Linked DNA regions of Homo sapiens. The protein of the gene in region 1 purifies or fractionates together with the protein of each later gene. This does not show direct contact. Each region holds a gene or a part of one and is shown in the gene's direction. Other genes may lie near its edges. The genes, in order: DAPP1 and GAK.

Region 1 (3,815 bases):
TCTGATTAATTTAGTTTCCAAAGACCTCCTTAAAAACAAAATGATTTAATGTAATGGATAGATAAAAGGTAGCTGGTTTTAATGACTTAATTTTTCAATTATTTTTAAGAGGTTATTTGAGTAGTTAGATAAATCCTTACGTTTATGTTTTTGATAGACATAAACAGATAAGTTAGTGGTTAAATTACAGAAATAGCAGAAGTCTTTGTTCTTGGGCCTCTGTTTTTTTCAGGCTCTGGAATATGTAAATCCTGTAAATTGAGCCCTGAACTGCAGCAAATCCATCACTTGCCTTTCCAGGACATATACAACTTGCTCAGAGTACAGGTTTATTATTTTCTAAAATACCTAAATCAAGCAACACAGTGCTTTTCCATGTCTCATTTATAGAGTGTCAGCCTAAAATCATTAATTTTCTTTCATCTAAAATACATTAATGTGTCCAGAAGCAAAGGAGAAATAAAACCATCTTAAATTGTTGCTCAGCTTCGCTTACACTTCTCAGGGGAGGGTATGGGCTTAGGGGGAAGAGAGGTGTGGGGAGGGCAAGAAGTGAGGGTGTGGAGAATCAGGGGAGAGGAAGGAGGTGGACCATGAACGAGGAGATGGGTCAGGCTGTTTGCTGCTTGCAAAATGAAAATATGGCAAAATAAAACAAGTAACAAATACTGGAGATATCACCTAAGTAACAAACTGGTAAAGAATAGCTAGTTAAATTACTGAAAATTCCAGCAATTCTTTGGCTTTAACAAAGGTTACTATACTATTTCTACATATAGCTATATATATGTATAAACACAAAAGAAATAACAAAATGAAAGTGTTTTAGCATACTTTAAAATTAAATATTCAAATGATCTAGTCAGTTGTAACTCCAAGTGAGAAACATAATAAACGTTCTCTTTTTTAAATACTTTCTCAAATCGAAAGTTGTATAAGAAAGTGCCAGTGTTTGGCTGGATTGGCCAGTGCCAAAGAACTAGATTCCAAGCTCTGAATATTTAAATAAATTGATAACTAATTAGTCACATATAAGAGAAGTTTAGAGTAGACCATGGAGCAGCAAACCTTTTTTTTATAAAGGGCCGGGTAACGAATGTTTTAGGCTTTGCAGGCCTTACAGTCTCTACCTCAACTACTCACATCTGCTGTTGTGCAAAAACTACCAGAGAACACAGAAACAAATGACCGTGATGGTGTTCAAACAAAACGTTATTTATACACTGAAATGTGAATTTCATATAATTTTTATGAATATTTTTCTATTTCCCTCAAGCATTTCAAAATGTACAGCCATTCTTGGCTCCCAGTCCATACTAAAACAGGTGTCTGACAGGAATTAACCCTCAGCTGGTGGTTTGCTGACCCACGGAATAAATGATAATAAACAAAATGAGTCCGTATTATAAGGCAGGCATTTTGTAGACACCAGCTCTGGTCTTTGAAAGGCACTGGTATTCCAGCTTTACACAGGAAGAGACTCAAGAGCAGAAAAATCAGGTTGCCTACAGTCTCTGAGTGTCTGTGTTCAAAACCCATGCTGACTTCACAAACCAGGTTGTTTCCCTGCTGTGATAGTCCTAATTTACTGACCACCTACTATGCATCAGCACCATACCATTCACACGCATAATGCCATTTAGGCTTCACAATAACACTTTCAATACGATATCACCATACTCATTTCATAGACGCAAAAGGTGACTTCAATAAGCTAAGTATACGATCCAGGTCACAGACTTTGTAAGTAGTGGAGCTGAGAGACACACCTAGGAACTTACCCCAGAGCTTTCCACTGCATGGTGCTGCTTTGTAGAGCCCACTGGTCAAAGGTATGTATTCTAGTAATGGCAATTAGTAATTATTGGATGCTTATCATGTGCTAAGCACTAGTTTAAGCCCTTTGCCCATGTGAACTTGTTTAATTTACACATTGCTGTGAGGTGGGTATTATTACTAATGTTGTCCCCATTTATAGATGAGAAAAGTAAAGAACAGAGTTTTAATCACATGCTTAAGTTTCCATTCTAACATACCTTCAAATCCAAGAGTTTTGCTCCAGAGCCTTCATGCTTGACTGCTGATGTAACCTCCTGGTTTTCATCAAATTTCTCTCATCTTACTATACTAGTACATGTTCATAGTTCTTAATATGAACTGAGAGAAGCAAAGAAAGTTCTGTGATTATAACAAAGTTTACTATAAAAGACATTATTCTTTCTATTCCTCACATAATATACATGCACATGTACACAAAGCCAGGCCAGCATTCTAGTTAATCAGAACATTATTGAATTTTGTGTAGAATTCATTTTCAGGACTAGAAAAATTTATTCAGCTAAGAAACGTAAAGTCAAAATTTCAGTGGAACCTGTTTACAGCGGTGTGACACTAACTACAGCAATACAGCTTGTTCCTCTTCTGTGCACAGCTCTGTAATCTTGGATTCTAAAAACGGAAGGTGGTTCTTCTGTGGTTGTATAATTAGTATGTAACTAGTGTACAGTTCCATCTCTTCATAACTCAAGTGAATTTCCTCTTCAGTTGTGGTGTTTTTCTGTTCCTCCAAAGGGTGACTTCCTTCTACTTACAAGTGGAAATCTGTCCCACAGACTGTCCATGTTGTGGGGAGTCACTTTGTTTCATTCATTCACTCTTCTACTGGGTCATAGATCTATCTGTTGTATGATGACGCCAGGCAAGGCAGCATAGAGGAGACTACAATAAAGAAGGCATGGCTGTGCAGAGATGGAGGATTCATATGCATGTAGAGTTAGAATGCAGTGTTGTGTGGGCTGAGGGCTGTGACAGTGTCTAGATAAAACAATCTCCTATGGAAGGCTATCTTCTCCACAGTAGAAGTGGAGAAGATGGCCTTGGAGCTGATATGATTTTTGTCAGTTGAAGTTAGAAAAGGTGAAATTTTCTACAGAGAAAATGGCCTGAATAAAGGAGTGATGGTAGCAAAATATGCAAGGATTCAGAATTGAAAAAGCTCACATGAACTCAGACCCACCCAGTCCCCAAGACCCATCTGGTTTGTCAGCATTCTGGTGGTCTGGTTCTGGTCTCTACCTCTATCCATCTCATCCTATGAGAAGCTTCAACTTGGCTTTTCTCTTGTACTTCTGTTTTCATGACCATACTCTTAGATATTTTGTTAAAACCTGCATTAATTTCTGGCTCCTACCAACTCCCGTAGAGGATAAATTCCTATTCTGAGCCCATCGACCTCTGTGTCCTACTGCCTGATAGAGGCCTGCCTCTACCAAGAGCACAGTGAACACTGCTGGGCCTTATCAGTGTTCGCTGCTCACCACTTGCTTCTTTATGGTCATGCTTCCCCTGACCCTGCCCACTAGCACCTGCCCCCATTATCTGTTGTTAGACCTTCTTTGTTTAAAAATGTTTATAACTTTAAAAAGTGTAAGAGTAATCACTTGTTTTAATAACAGTATGATGATTATGTAAAAGAATGTCACTTTTGAGAGATGCATGTTGAATTATTTAGGGTTAAAGTGTCAGGATATCTGTAATTTACTTTAAAACTGTTCATCGAAAGAGTCAAAATTAAACGTTGTATTAAAAATGTGGCAAAAGGTTAAAAATTATTCTACCTGAAATATGGGTATTATTTCAATGCAGTAACATTGATGCTATTTTTCTACTTTCCAGTATATCTGAATTTATTTATAATAAATAGTTGAAAATAATAGTAATATATATTAATTATCAAAAATTAGAGAGATGAAGAGAAGCATCAAAATATAAAGAAAAGCACTAAAATGTCAGCCATGTACTACTACCTAAAATAA
Region 2 (3,815 bases), about 99 Mb from region 1:
GTTTTGCAAACTTCAGCGAATACTTGGAGAAATGGCATCTGTTCAAGTGGGCGTTTATTAAAGTGGACTCCACGTTGGGTCATACAGCAAGTCTCAAGGCATCTCAACAGTGGATTAAAGTGGGAATCAGTGACAGGAAAACACCCAGAGACCGTATGCTCGTTAAGTGACCTGTGTGCCAAAAAGGAAATCACTGTTGAAATGAGAAAATATTTTAAACACATTGATAATCAAAATACCACTTACCAGATGTGTGGGGTGCATCTGAAGCAGGGTTTAGAGGAAATGTGTAACTTCAAATGCATACATTAAAAGGAAGAAAGGTTGGTTGCGCACAGTGGCTTACAGCTGTAATTCCAACACTTTGGGAGGCAGGAGGATTGCTTGAACCTGCGAGATCAAGGCTGCGCTGTGGGCGAGAGGCGTGTTCCCTGCGTGGTGAGCCTGCGCCGTGCCTGGGCGAGAGGCGTGTTCCCTGCGTGGTGAGCCTGCGCCGTGCCTGGGCGAGAGGCGTGTTCCCTGCGTGGTGAGCCTGCGCCGTGCCTGGGCGAGAGGAGCACAGGGTTGCAGCCATGGCACAGATGTAACAGCTGAGCCTGTCAGGAGTCCGCTCTGCCCTGTTGGAGCTAGTCTGGCAGGAGCCTGCGGGCAGTGTCCTCTGCAGTCCAGGGCTCTCGGGAGTGGCCAGCCCTGCTCACAGACCTCATTGTGCCCTCAGCGCCAGGCTGGGTGAGCCGAGCCTGCAGGCCCAGTGCCCAGGGCCATCTCAAGGGGCAGCTGGGGGAGGGAGGCTGGGCATGAGCGGCACTCCCTCTGGGGCTGCCCAAGTTCGGTCTGTCCCAGGACCCAAGCCCGTCTGGCCGACCTGGCTCCCTGCACACTCCCTCCCTCCGTGCCCCTCCCACTGTGCCTCTCCGCCCTCGGTCGTGGCCGGTCTGAGCCTCCGCTGCGGTGGCCGTCGGATTCTCTGCTGGTGCCTGCAGGCTCCTCTGCAGACGTTGCCTCCTCCACATCTCCACGCCAGCTGTGCCACCGCTGTGCAGTCCCTGCCACCCCTGACGACAGACAGCGGCACGCAAAGAGGCTCGGGCGCAGGGGGAAGCTCGTGTTGGCCCCGGCTGGAGTGCACATCAGTCCCGGCTTCGGCCGTGGCCACCTCCGCCCAGAGCCTTGAGTGGGCATTGAGGGGGCGCTGCTCTGCGTGAGGTTGGCCACCCCTCAGGGCGGGCACAGGGTGCTCTCCCCTCGTGCAGGGAGAGGATGTTTTAGAGGGTGAGCAGGAAGGGGTGAACTAGAGGCCTTTCACACATCACAGGCATGTGTGGAGCTCAGAGAAGTGACAGTTAAAACCAGCCGTGGCTCTGACCCACACAGGCCGCCGGGCCCGTCTCCCTGCCCTCCCTCGGCGGATCCCACTCTGCTCTGGGTGTTCCTGGCCCTGCAGACACTGGCAGCCTGGGTTTCCCAGGAACTGGCCGCCACTCTTTTGTGTTTCTTCTTTATTTTCTTAGGTGTATAACATTCAACATGTAGAGATTTTAGGTGGCGTAAAATAAGACAGGCATGGGGAGCCTGCTGCCCGCTGGAGAGCCCAGGCTTATCAGTGCAGTTTATGACAGTGGGATCAGAGATGATCATAGGAAATGTGTGAAATAGCCTGGAATTCCTTAGAGAGCTGTGGGGCTGGGAAATGGTCAGTGTCAGGTCACACCTGCCTCCCCGTGCGGCCAACACCCCAAGGCGGGCCCTGCTGACCCCTGCCCCTGCTCCCCACCCACATGGCCGACACCCCAAGGTGGGCCCTGCTGACCCCTGCCCTGCTCCCCACCCGCACGGCCGACACCCCAAGGCAGGCCCTGCTGACCTCTGCCCTGCTCCCCACAGCTCAGCCTGGGCTGCCTCCCCAGCCCCACAGTGAACACAGCTTTGTTTCCCCCGGAATCATGTTCCCAATTCCCTGGCAGCCGGATTCTAGAGGTCTTGGTTTTATGGGCATCTGTTGACAGTTGTGGATTTTTGTCAGGGCGGACGTCGTCATTTTTATGGAAAACACATTTAGTATCCCAGAGTGCGTGCTCTGAGCTGCCGGGTGGCTGCAGTCTGTGTGTGCTGGGTAGTGAGGGCCAGCGCCTGCCTTGGAACCCTGGGGTCCCACCTCAGAGCTGCCTGCCTGGGTGCCGGAGTCTCCAGCTGTGGGATGTTGTCCCGTCTGCTCTGAGCACGTGGCCTCCCCTGGAGTTGCAGGAAACATGGCGGCCCCGCCCGGTGCCCCTCTGCCTTGAACACAGTCGCGGGCATCCCCACTGTGACGTCCGAGGAGCGAGTGAAATGATGCTCTTCTGGGGCCGTGACCGGGGGTGCTGGTGCCCTGTGGGTTCCTGGGACAGCTGCTGGGTCAGCTCACAGGGCTCCAGCTTCCGCAGGCGGGGGTGGCCGGCTGCCCTGGTTGTTCTCGCCCCGCTGCCTGCAGCTGCCACCTGTTTCCATGCACGTTTCTTTAGTGAATGTCCAAGGACTTACAGACTACTTGGGTGGCCTTCCTAAGTGGTGTCTACTTGTAACCGCAGGTATGACCTGGACGCGTGTGACATTCAAGAAAAATACCCGGATTTATTTCAAGTGAACCTGGAAGTGGAGGTGGAGCCCAGGGACAGGCCGAGCCGGGAAGCCCCACCATGGGAGAACTCGAGCATGAGGGGGCTGAACCCCAAAATCCTGTTTTCCAGCCGGGAGGAGCAGCAAGACATTCTGTCTAAGTTTGGTAAGATCCCGCAGGTGAATTAGGTGAACCCTGTTCTGGTGAGTGTCTCTGTGGAGAGAGACACCTTTGGCTGAGCTCTGGCAGGGCTGGGCCCCACGCCTGCTGCTGCACCCAGGCCCTGAGCAGCTTGGGCTGCAGGAGGTTTTGGAAACTCCGTCGTGGATGTTGGACACCACCACCAGCTACACCAGAGAAGGACTCGCAGGCTGCAATTTCTGAGGCCCATGGGCAGGGACGGAGGCAGAGGGAGGAAAACCCAGGCTCCTGGAGCGAAGCGGGGTTTTGTCCCAGGCGTGTGTCTGGGTCAGATTTTTGTCATGTGTGCTGGACACACGTCCACTCTCACTGTGAGCCTCAGGCCTGCTGGCAGCATGTGGAACAGAACCCTCGCTCCTGTCGCTCTTCACTTCCGAGCAGTTTCGAAACGGCAGCCCAGGAAGTGCTGGCAGGTGGGCCCAGGGCCGTCCACTGCTCATGCCACGCTTGTTCTCGGCTCTTGGTTTGCAGTGTTTGCTTTTTCTTTCTGAGCATCTTCAGCGTCCCTGAAAGAGGCTGTATGTGTGACCTGTGCGTGCTGTGTATGTGTCCGTGGGTGGTGTGTGCCGTGTGTGTGTGTGCACGAGTGGTGTGTGCATTCATGTGTACTGTGTATCTGTGTGCTGTGTGCATTCGTGTGTACAGTGCATCTGTGTGTGCTGTGTGTGCGTTCGTGTGTACCATGCATCGGTATGTGCTGTGTGTGCGTTCGTGTGTACCGTCCATTTGTGTGTGTGCATGCATGTGTACTGTGCATCCGAGTGTGTGCATGTGTGTGTACCGTGCATCTGTGTGCGTGCATTCATGTGTACCCTGCATCTATGTGTGCTGTGTGCATTCATGTGTACTGTGCCTGTGTGTGTGCATTTGTGTGTACCATGCATCTCTGCTGTGTGTGCATTCGTGTGTACTGTGCATCTGTGTGTACTGTGTGCATTCATGTGTACTGTGCATCTGTGTGTGCTGTGTGTGCATTCATGTGTACCCTGCATGTGTGTATGTGCTGTGTGTGCATTCG

The links.
Region 2: the proteins of DAPP1 (region 1) and GAK purify together in Homo sapiens (affinity purification with mass spectrometry; one large-scale study listed by BioGRID and IntAct). This does not show direct contact.

Annotation. Positions count from the first base shown.
Region 1 is NC_000004.12:99,819,607-99,823,421, forward strand, and holds part of DAPP1 (dual adapter for phosphotyrosine and 3-phosphotyrosine and 3-phosphoinositide), read left to right. Parts: intron 1-3,815. UniProt on the Homo sapiens protein: May act as a B-cell-associated adapter that regulates B-cell antigen receptor (BCR)-signaling downstream of PI3K.
Region 2 is NC_000004.12:869,657-873,471, reverse strand, and holds part of GAK (cyclin-G-associated kinase), read left to right. Parts: exon of another isoform or gene 1-171; intron 172-246; exon of another isoform or gene 247-404; intron 405-2,567; coding exon 2,568-2,761; intron 2,762-3,815. UniProt on the Homo sapiens protein: Associates with cyclin G and CDK5. Seems to act as an auxilin homolog that is involved in the uncoating of clathrin-coated vesicles by Hsc70 in non-neuronal cells. Expression oscillates slightly during the cell cycle, peaking at G1.